Regions from separate parts of the Homo sapiens genome. Here all the other regions are linked to region 1. The links come from fine-mapping of genetic effects on gene expression. A gene starts in region 1. Each other region holds a variant in brackets. All regions are shown on one strand. Distances are between the middles of the regions. Region 1 holds the start of HECTD4 (HECT domain E3 ubiquitin protein ligase 4). Region 2 overlaps TMEM116 (transmembrane protein 116). Region 3 overlaps HECTD4 (HECT domain E3 ubiquitin protein ligase 4). Region 4 overlaps MAPKAPK5 (MAPK activated protein kinase 5).

The links. PIP is the estimated chance that this variant, and not a neighbour inherited with it, causes the effect.
Region 2: its variant is the best candidate, but not a certain one, in a credible set for the expression of HECTD4 in whole blood (TOPMed, PIP 0.89).
Region 3: its variant is the best candidate, but not a certain one, in a credible set for the expression of HECTD4 in blood mononuclear cells (TOPMed, PIP 0.68).
Region 4: its variant is the best candidate, but not a certain one, in a credible set for the expression of HECTD4 in breast (GTEx, PIP 0.80).

Annotation. Positions count from the first base shown.
Region 1 is chr12:112,380,922-112,383,604 of GRCh38, reverse strand. HECTD4 (HECT domain E3 ubiquitin protein ligase 4) reads left to right here and starts at 1,174. Exons shown (of 76, transcript NM_001388303.1): 1 at 1,174-1,653. The coding sequence starts at 1,477. RefSeq lists silencers at 854-1,143, 1,254-1,523, 1,534-2,023 and an enhancer at 1,031-1,530.
Region 2 is chr12:111,997,755-112,000,437 of GRCh38, reverse strand. The region is part of intron 3 of TMEM116 (transmembrane protein 116); the gene reads left to right. It also overlaps the pseudogene LOC724085. Among named protein-coding and RNA genes, the nearest start is that of TMEM116, 14 kb to the left of the region's middle. The variant G/A (reference allele first, on the strand shown) is at 1,093.
Region 3 is chr12:112,166,891-112,169,573 of GRCh38, reverse strand. It overlaps HECTD4 (HECT domain E3 ubiquitin protein ligase 4), which reads left to right. Exons shown (of 76, transcript NM_001388303.1): 70 at 1-71; 71 at 1,657-1,760; 72 at 2,036-2,257. Among named protein-coding and RNA genes, the nearest start is that of MIR6861, 4.9 kb to the right of the region's middle. The variant C/G (reference allele first, on the strand shown) is at 1,357.
Region 4 is chr12:111,873,953-111,876,635 of GRCh38, reverse strand. All of the region lies in intron 7 of MAPKAPK5 (MAPK activated protein kinase 5), which reads right to left. Among named protein-coding and RNA genes, the nearest start is that of MAPKAPK5-AS1, 32 kb to the right of the region's middle. The variant G/A (reference allele first, on the strand shown) is at 1,701.

The DNA of each region.
Region 1 (2,683 bases):
TTTCATCATGTTGACCAGGCTGGTCTCGAACTCCTGACCTCAGGTGATCTGCCCACCTTGGCCTCCCAAAGTGCTGGGATTACAGGTGTAAGCCACTGTGCCCGGCCTGTTTTATTATTTTTTAAGTGATAAAAATATACAAGTAATAGAGAACAATCTCATCTCAGTAGTTCCAGACCAGCCCCACACTCCCATGGCAACTCACCTTAAACATCTGGTGTGTATTTGTTCATGCATTGTTCTTTATACATATAGTTTTCCTTTCTTGTTTTTATAAAATGGCACTGGTGGGCATATATATATTTTTGGTGGGGAGGGAGGGATGGGGTCTCCCTCTGTCGCCCGGGCTGGAGTGCAGTGGCAAGATAATAGCTCACTGCAGCCTCCACCTCCTGAGTTCAAGAGATCCTCTTGCCTCAGCCTCCCGAGTAGCAGGACTACAGACGCTTGCCACCCTGCCCCGCTAATTTTTATTTTTTGTAGAGATGGGGTCTCCCTATGTTGCCCAGGCTGGCCTCAAACTTCTGGGCTCAAGCAGTCCTTCTGCCTTGACCTCCGTGCTGGGATTACAGGTGTGAGCCACCGCACCCGGCCTAGTGAGCATATTTTTAAGGTGTATGTCAATTAGTGTGGAACACTGATGGAACGAACATAGCAATAATTAGAATTGCCACTCATGGAGCACATATTAAGTGTCGGGCATTGAGCACCAAGCATTGTGGACAGACGCTTTATTTTCACCAGGTTTTGAGTGCTTACTGGGTACTAGACTTTTCAGTCAATATTAATCATCTACTATGTGATTCTACCAAGTGCTTATGAACAAGTGTGCAGCGCCTATTCTGCGCCAGCCTTTTGCTTGCATCTCATTTAAACGTGAAAACAAGGAGTGATCTCTATGCTCTGCCCAGGGTGGGGGCGCGGGCCCGAGCAAGGGGTGCACACCTGAGTAGGGACAGGACGGGGGAAGCGGCGTCCTCTTCCCTGGCGCGCTGCAAAGCCAGGGCTACCCTGAATGGCCAGGGGGAGAAGGGGCCGGCGGAGGTCAGGCCGAGGGCAGGCGGCAGCGAAGGGCTAGGCGGACGTCCAGGCCACCCGGGTGGCCTCGTCCGCGGAGCGGTGGGCGGAGCGGCGGGCGGGGCCTGTATTGTCCGCTCCGCGAGGCATGCCGGGAGCCCCGCCCCCAACATGGCGTCTCACTGACAGTTGGTTGCCGAGCGGCAGAGGCGGATCCTGCTCCTGAGGGCGGCGGCGGCGGCGGCGGCGGCGGCGGCGGCAGGGCCGGGGTCTCCCGGGCCGGGGTCGGGGGTATGGCGACTCGGACCGCCTAGGGCGGAGTTGCACGGGCGAGGCAGCAAGTGGGGCGCCGCTGGCGGGCGCGGCGGCCGCTGCCATGGACTGGTGATCGCGGCGGCTCCTGCTCCGTTTCCCCCGGCCGGGCGTCTGCTCCTCAGCGCCAAGCCTTCAGCCGGGGCCATGGGCTCGTCGGCGGCCGCGGCGGCGGCGGCGGCGGCGGCCGCTGACTCGGCGCAGTGGCTCTCGGTGAAGGAAGAGACCATCTTCCTGCACGACGGGCTGATCCGGGTCACCGACCTGGCCGAGCTGCCCAGCGAGATCCTCGGGGCCCCAGAGGCCGCGGACACCGACCTGGAGGTGAGCGAGGCGGCCCCCGGCCCCCGCCATCGGACTGACCCACTCGCCCGGCACCCCCGGGTCGGGCCCCCTCCTCGCCTCAGCCGCGGCCTCGCCTCCCGGCGGCTGCCGGGGCAGGTGTGTGTGGGCGCGGGGCGGGCAGGTGGGGCCGCGGCCGCAGGTCTGCGGACCGCCCGCCCCGCTCTCCCTCCCTCCCTCCTCGGGGCCTGGCGCCCGCAGGGGATTTCATTTGTGGTTTTCTTTTGAGCGTTCCGACACCCGGCATTTTATTAGGCTAGCGCCTGGCTCGGCCTTCATGCCCCAGAGGAGCCACCGCCACCACCCGGGCCCTCCCTCCCCTCCCCCACGGGCCCCCAGGACCCACTTCCAGGGCACACCCAGGTTGCTTAGCTTTGGGAACATTTTGATTTTCACGCTGTGTACCCTCCCATCCTTTTCTTCCCTAGTTCTGTTTTTTTTGTTTGGTTTGGTTTGGTTTTTTTCCGGGAGAGGGTAGTGGCAGCTGCGGGTCCGCGATGGGCAATCCAGCAACTTCTCTGTGTTGTGTCTCGGATGGATTGACACGGGGCCTTTGTCAGGGAAGCGGGCGCTGTGGACAGCGAGAGGGATGCTCCAGCGGCCCTCCATGCACTCTCGGGGAAGGGTCACTGGCGCGTTAGGCCGCAGGGCCTTTTTGTGTGCCCCGGGGGTCGCCAAGCATCCCGGGTTCAGAGCCGTGGCAGGTGCAACAGCAGATCTCATCAGTTGAGCTGCTTGGCCTTGGGGGCAGAAGGGAACCAAATATGCCTGGTTGGTGGGAACTTTCCATCGACTTCACTTGGGTTCGTGTTTGCCTAGAGGTGGGAATACTGGCAGTGTCGTTTCATGGAGGCCAACGGATGCTGACACTGCTCCCCTTCCACTTTGTGGGATGACATTTTGATGTGTAGGTAGCATGGGGTGTCATCAAATTTTTACTGCCGTAAGGAGAGCTTTCTGGGGTAGGGCGCAGAGAGGATGGCCTATCTTCTGGCTATAAACGGCATGCGAG
Region 2 (2,683 bases), 380 kb after region 1:
AAAGAGTGCATAAGACTGTTGTTTCTGTTTTTAAAGTTATTTTTCTATCTCTCATTTCTGAGGGATGAATTTTTTTAAAAAGTTTTGAAGTTCTTTGGGACTTAGCCATGATGTGAATGCTTATCTCTAGATAAAATTTAAAGGATTTTAAAAAAGTAATTGCTACACATAAAATGATAAATAGGTAATTTGAGTGATTTTATTTTGAACTCCTTGGTTAATTATTTTGTTTGTATATTGTTTCATCTATGAATAATTCAAATTTATAGACACTATTGAGGAGTAATACTCTCTGATATATCAAGGAGAATTGTGTTAGTCACATGATGATTTTGTTTTACTTTTTTAATGCATTTATTATTTTATTAATTGGACTAAATGATGAGACCAGACCAGTGTCTACATATTTTCATTGTTAGAAAAATCTACAAAAGTCTACCCTTTCTACAGTGATGACTTTAAACAAAAAAAAGCAGCATAAATATTAGCCTGCAAGAGCAGTCCTAAACAGTCACAATTAAACTATACTACACAAGAAGACTGTTGTGAAGCATTTACCTCCCCCAAAATCTTTACAGTTCCATTTCTTGGTGAAGTGGCACACTGTGGGTTGTGATTCTTAATTCTTCATTGTGTTTGTCAATAGGACATTCATGCTGGATAGGTTGTCTTTTATTTATTTTTTTATGTCTCAAATCATCTTGTGGGATTGTTTGCTCATCTCATAGTACAGTTTTAAACAGAAAGTTTGAAACAATGTAAATGGTTTTTGTGAAAATTATTAGTTACTATATACATGTGTATATATATGTATATATAATTTATTTTATTTTTTTTTTGAGATGGAGTCTCGCTCTGTAGCCCAAGCTGGAGTGCAGTGGTGCAGTCTCAGCTCACTGCAACCTCTGTCACCAGGGTCTCGGTTCAAGCAATTCTGGCTCAGCCTCCCGAGTAGCTGGGATTACAGGCATGCGCCAGCATGCCCAGCTAATTTTTGTATTTTTAGTAGAAATGGGGTTTCACCATGTTGGTCAAGCTGGTGTTGAACTCCTGACCTCGTGATCCACCCGCCTTGGCCTCCCAAAGTGCTGG[G/A]ATTACAGGCGTGAGTCACCGCGCCCGGCCAAGTTACAATATTTTTAAAGAGCTAGAATGGCCTCTTTGTAAATAGAAGAACATTTGTAAATAAAGTTGAATTTCTAAGTAAAAAAAAAGGACAAATACAAATGTATATATATGTGGGTTTTTTTTTAAGAGTTTTTGCTTTCATGTTTAGGATCATATCTTATGCTTTTTTGGGTTTTCTTTATTACCAGGCACTAGGCTGGTTGTATTTTTCTTAAGAGCATGACCTATATTATACATTTCTTTGTATTTCCTTCAAAATAATGCCTTGTTATACATAGGAGGGGTAGAATTTTTCTTGATTTCAATAATAGGTACTCAGTTAATTTTTGTTGTATAATTGATTGAACTTTATCTCCTGTTATTAGAATTGAGTGCAAGCAAACCTCACCTCGTTTTGTCCTCCTTTGCCCTGCCAAAGACTTCTGATATGTTTTAACATCTCCCTATACATAGGGTCCTTTCCTTTCCTTTCCCCCTTTCCCCCTTTGCCTTTCCTGAGAGTCTCGCTTTGTCATTCAGGCTGGAGTGCAGTGGTGTGATCTCAGCTCACTGCAACCTCCATCTCCTGGATTCAAGTGATTCTTCTGCCTCAGCCTCCCAAGTAGCTGGGACTACAGGCATATGCCACCATGCCTGGCTAATTTTTTTGTATTTTTAGTAGAGACAGGGTTTCACCATATTGGTCAGGCTGGTCTCAAACTCCTGACCTCAGGTGATCTGCTCGCCTCGGCCTCCCAAAGTGCTGGGGATTACAGGCATGAGCCACTGCGCCCAGCCTCATAGGGCTATTTCTTGAATTAATGATCAGAATGTTATTGCTCACAAAAGCTGCATGGCTGCTTTTCTTCTCCAGGGATTATTTATGTGAAAGTTGATTATACATATTGGATCATTCTTGTCATACCCAACTAAATTGGAGTCGAGAAGCCAAGGGGAACAAGCTCTCAGAGCACATAGCACCTGCTCCAATAATTAATATTTTCACAAGCCCAGCTACTAAAATAGTCCAATGTAACCCTGAGACCAGTTTGATCTTGTAGTTGCCAAAATGACTTGCCCTGTCTCTTAGGACTAGTTTTACATACCACGGTCACTCACTAATCAGAGTTTGCCGACTCCCAAAACTTTCTTTGGTGCCAGTGAGCTTGCTTTCAAAACAACATGTACTATTTCCCTTCTAATAAAACTCCCAGTCATCTCTTTGTTCTTCAGACATGTCCAAGACCACGCAGTCTGTGTGTATGCCCTGAAATGCAATTCTTGCTTCCCAAATAAAACATTTTAAATTTAGAGATTTTTCTTTATATATTTCTTGACTTCACCATTTCACATTTTTAAATCTCTTAACAGTTATAAACTTATGATAGGTCATAAGCCAGTAGAATCTATGACTGTGCCATCCAACTGGAATTTTAGCAAGCTTACCCAGAGAAAAGGCCATATGTGGTTAACATAATAGCTGATATTTATTAAATACTTTATACTTTTAAATGTTTTATTACATATTATTTCACTTTTTTATGTTTCTGTTAGCCAAGGCAACTTGACCATCTAACCC
Region 3 (2,683 bases), 210 kb after region 1:
GCTGGCCAGTGGCGGTGACCCCACATATGCCTTCAACATCCGCTTCACTGGCGAGGAGGTCCATGGCACCAGTAAGTGGTGGCCCGCCAGGCTCCACGCTGGAGGAGCTGTGTTTAGTGTCCAGCCTTAGCCCCAGCTGCCCAAGACCTCCATTTCCAAGAGTAAAAGCCACATCCTCAGCACTTGTGCTGCAGAAGCCAGGTCTGCACCCAGAGTGGCCTCACGCCCGTGTCCTCCAGACCAGCCCCCTGTGGAAGCCTCGGCCAGTCCCTGCTGGGCTTGGGGACGGCACCTCTGCTCAGGGCCCTCCTCGGTGCTGATTGGCCCCCTCCCCGGGAAGGGCCCTGGCTGAGGAGTTGGTGGGCCTAAAGGCTTGTGTGTGCCCCATGAGAGGCAGGGTGTTGGGGAGTCCTTGGTTAAGATGGCACCATAGCACTCTTCAGGGATGAGGACTGGCAGCTGAGCAAGTGCTCCCTTGTGACCTCTTATGCTTAGCCCCAGACATTCAGGAAACGTGTCCACTGCAGATGGAGAAGAAAGCTAGTTTCTCCACAGCCGGGCACACTGGAAGGAAAGGCTGTCCGGGCAGGAGGGAGCCCCCACCCAGCTCCTTCTCCCCTTTCCTCTGATCTGCCCCCACGGGAACGCAGCTGCCTCCCAGACGGGGGACCCTGGCATCCTATGGGCAGGCCTCCTAGGCCTCTCTGAGAGCAACTCTGGTTCACTGACAGCCCAGACTCACGCTCGACACCTTATCCTTCCCACAGCAGCGAACCTGCCCAGAGTGCCAGCCCTGGCCCATCCTACACATAGGGAAACTGGGACTCTACAAAGCCAAGTCACTTCCCAAGGTCATGCAGCCAGCTGGGGTTCCAGGGTCCAGGCCCCTGGCCTTCCAGGCGTCAGCAGTCAGGACGCTCCTGCTTCTCCTTGAAGCAGAGGTGAGGGCCAGGCCCACCATCTGCCCCTGCACTGGGCCCCCACACTGGGTTTCCACATGGCTCTTACCAAGCAGGGTGTGGGCACAGCTGTGCTCAGAGCTCCCTGACCTCAGGGTACCGATAGGGAACACAGGGAAGGCCAGAGGAGATTTACAACAAAACCAAAGGCCCATCTTGAATGGCGGCGGGAGAGGATGAGCAGTTACCGTTGCCCTTTGCACATTCACACATTTGTCCATTCACTCACGCATTCATCGGACATACGCGAGCCCGGGCACTGGGGGAGGCAGTGCTGAGTGAAACAGGTGGTCCTGCCCTCAGCCTGGCCCAGAGGGACAGACATGGACCAAACAAGTCCACAACTCAGGCAGGCTTGCAGCTGTGAGAGGTTGCCTGTGTGGGGACCTGCGGTGAC[C/G]TCACTGAATCTTCGAATGGCCTTCGGGGTAGGTACGGTCACTCTCCCATTTGACAGACAGGTGACTGAGCCTCAGGGACATCTTGCCCTCCGTGGTATCCCTGGGTGGCCCCACTAGTGAGTGGAGAGCAGGATTGGACCTGAGGCCTCCCAGGCCTGGGGTGGCTTCTTTCTACCCCGCCACAGCGGCAGGTAGGCCGTGGAAGGAGTAGCCGCTCCAGCCAGCAGGTGAGAGGGAGGGAACGGTGTCGCCTCCCGCCGGGACACCCCAGGTGCCCATGTGTCTCGTCTGTCCTACAGGCGGCTCTTTCCGCCACTTCCTGTGGCAGGTGTGTAAGGAGCTGCAGAGTTCCTCGCTGTCGCTGCTGCTGCTGTGCCCCAGCTCAGCTGTCAATAAGAACAAGGTAGGCAGAGGCCGGGAGGAGGCTCCACGCCCCCGAGCTCATGTCCTGCGCAGTGGCTGGGGTGGCGGGCAGTGTGTGTCTCATCAAAGCCAAACCGTTTCAGAAACCCTCCCAATCTGTGGGGACAGGTCCTTGCCTCACTGGATGGGCAAGCTCTGGGAGCTTGCAGTGACTTCTCTCCTGCCTGCCACAGGGTATGGTGGCTTGAAACACATGTTCCCTGGCGGGCACAGAGGCCCACGCCCAGGTCACCTCATGCCCACCTCCACTTCCAGGGCAAGTATATCCTGACCCCGAGCCCCATCACCTACGGGGAGGAGCAGCTGCTGCACTTCCTGGGGCAGCTGCTGGGGATTGCAATTCGGGCAGACGTCCCGCTGCCCCTGGACCTCCTGCCCTCCTTCTGGAAGACGCTGGTGGGCGAGCCCTTGGACCCTGAGCAAGACCTGCAGGAAGCGGATATCCTCACCTACAATTACGTCAAGAAGTTTGAGAGCGTGAGTGCAAGGCACAGTTCTGGGGGGCTGCAGAACCCGGGGCCTCCCCGCCACCTTGCTTAGGCCTCCATGCAGACCCGAGCTCCCCGCTGAGGCTGGGTTGGGATCCCACAGAGGACCTTAGGGGTGTGAGCCATGTGCCAGGAAGGCTTATTTCATGGGGACAGAGGCCTCTGGCCTCCCTCCCTGCTGGCAGCAGAGATTGGAGGTGACATGACCAGCCCTGCTGGCCCTCCCCTCCCACATTGGTGCTCATTGCCTGGCCATGGGCAAGGGCTCCTGGAGCTGAGTGAACAGGCACTGGGAGAACAGCTGTAGGGGTGAAGGTTAAGAGTTTTTTCAGGGACTCAGAGCACAGGAGTCAGCCCTGGGACCACCTGAGGTCCACCAAGGGGGAGGCATCAGGATGGAGCCCTTCCTGCCTGT
Region 4 (2,683 bases), 510 kb after region 1:
ATCGTTGAAGAGATGATGTCTGAAAAATTTCCTAATTTTTATTTGATATGGTGTTTATTTGATAAACACCATAAACCAACAGATCCCAGGAGCTCAAGAGATCCCTGGCAGGAAAAACAAAGGAACAAGAATGCATACATAATCAAATTGTTGGGACTTTTTTTTTTTAACTTTTATTTTGGGTTCAGGGGTACATGTGCTTTATGCATGTTAATTATATAGGTGAACTGCAGTGTCTTCACAGGGGTTTGGTATACAGATTATTTCATCACCCAGGTTTTATATAAGCATAATACCACATAGGTAGTTTTTTGATCCTCACCCTCCTTCCACCCAAATTGTTGGGATTTCTGTTTCTGCTAGGATATAGAAAGCTGGAAAGTGTCAAAGATAAATTATAAAATCATCCTTTTTTTTTTTTTTTTTTTTTGAGATGGAGTCTCGCTCTGTCACCAGGCTGGAGTGCAATGGCTCAATCTTTGTTCACTGCAACCTCCACCTCCTAGGTTCAAGCAATTCTCCTGCCTCAGCCTCCCGAGAAGCTGGGATTACAGGTGGCTGCCACCACACCCGACTAATATTTTGTCTTTTTAGTAGAGACGGGGTTTCACCATGTTCACCAGGCTAGTCTTGAACCCCTGACCTCAAGTGATCCACCCCCCTCAGCCTCCCAAACTGCTGGGATTACAGGGGTAAGCCACTGCGCCCGGCCCATCACTTTTTTTGAACCCATCAAAGATCAGGTCTCAGGTTAACCAATTATTCGGAAATCTTTAAGTCAGGCCCTTCCAAGGAGAGATGGGGAGTGAAAGCTGGCTCACCTATGGCAGAGCGCAGGAGGAAGTGATATCACATGCCATTTGGGTAAAAAGAATTCAGCGAGGTTTTTAACAAACTGCTAAAGGCAAAATGTGGGCTAGGATAAGAGTACAGACCCTCTAGGAGCCATACAAACAAGGAAGACTCATGCCTGCTCCCATACTCTTCTGCACAGACTTCCACCAGATATTCATGAGACTCAAGAACACAGGTCCTGCCCAACAGCAGAGAAACAGATACCTCTCGGTCCCCCATTGCCATCTCCCTTTCTGCAGGCTTGCAGGGACCAAGCAGTAACTGACAGCAATCTATTGCTAAGGGGGGGCCAAGACTGTAAAGAGAGATCCCCTCTGAGGTACAGGTGCACTAGCAAGGCCAAGACTGAGGGTAGAAGTGGAATATTTTAAAAAAATTTTTTTTAAATTTTAAAAAAAATGGCATTTCAGATCCCACCTAACCATAAGGTAACAAAACAGGAATCCCATGCCACTGAGGCACTGAAGACAACGATAGCAACAACAAAACTCACACTCAGCTCAACTTTTGAGTAGACTGATTTAACCCTCAAACCCAACACTAAAGGCCGAGCAACAGAAGAGGCATGCCCACTTTTAGGCTCTCAAAAAAGAAAAAGAAAAAAAAGAAAATCCTAATAAATCTACAAAAAATTTACTAGATTTAATAAATGAATTTAGGAAGGTCCCAAGACACAAAGTCAATATACAAAAATCACTAGTATGGGCCGGGTGCAGTGGCTCACGCCTGTAATCTCAGCACTTTGGGAGGCCAAGGTAGGCAGATCATGAGGTCAGGAGATTGAGACCATCCTGGCTAACAAGGTGAAACCCCGTCTCTACTAAAAATATGAAAAAAAATTAGCC[G/A]GGCGTGGTGGCGGGCGCCTGTAGTCCCAGCTACTCGGGAGGCTGAGGAAGGAGAATCGCTTGAACCTGGGAGGCGGAGATTGCAGTGAGCCGAGATTGCGCCACTGCACTCCAGCCTGGGCAACAGAGCAAGCCTCCATCTCAAAAAAAAAAAAAAAAAAAGTCACTAGTATGGCTGGGGGCAGTGGCTCACACCTGTAATCCCAACACTTTGGGAAGCCAAAGTGGGTGGATTACCTGAGGTCAGGAGTTCGAGACCAGCCTGGCCAACATGGTGAAACCCTGTCTCTACTAAAAATATAAAAATTAGCCAGGTGTGGTGGCGGGCGCCTGTCATCCCAGAGGCTGAGACAGGAGAATTGCTTGAACCCAGGAGGCAGAGGTTGCAGTGAGCTGAGATTGCGCCACTGCACTCCAGCCTGGGCAACAAAGAGTGCAATTCCATCTCAAAAAAAAAAAAAAAAACCCAAAACAAACAAACAAAAAACACTAGTATTTCTATAAACTAGTTAAAATTAGAAAATGAATTTTTTTTTTTTTGAGACGCAGTTTCACTCTAGTCACCCAGGCTGGAGTGCAATGGCATGATCTCGACTAACTGCAGCCTCCACCTCCCAGGTTCAAGAGATTCTCCTGCCTCAGCCTCCCAAGTAGCTGAGATTACAGGCACCGGCTACTACGCCCAGCAAATTTTTGTATTTTTAGTAAAGATGGGGTTTCACCATGGCAGCCAGGCTGGTCTCGAACTCCCGACCTCAGGTGATCCGCCTGCCTCAGCCTCCCAAAGTGCTGGTATAACAGGCGTGAACCACCACGCCCAGCTGAAATGTTTTACAATATCATTTCCAACAGCATCCAAAAACAAAATTTAAGGATAAATTTAAGAAAATATGTGCAAGACCTGTAACATTAAGAAGCATAAACATTTTTTAGGAAAATTAAAGACCTAAACAAATGGAGAGATATATACCTTGTTCATCGAT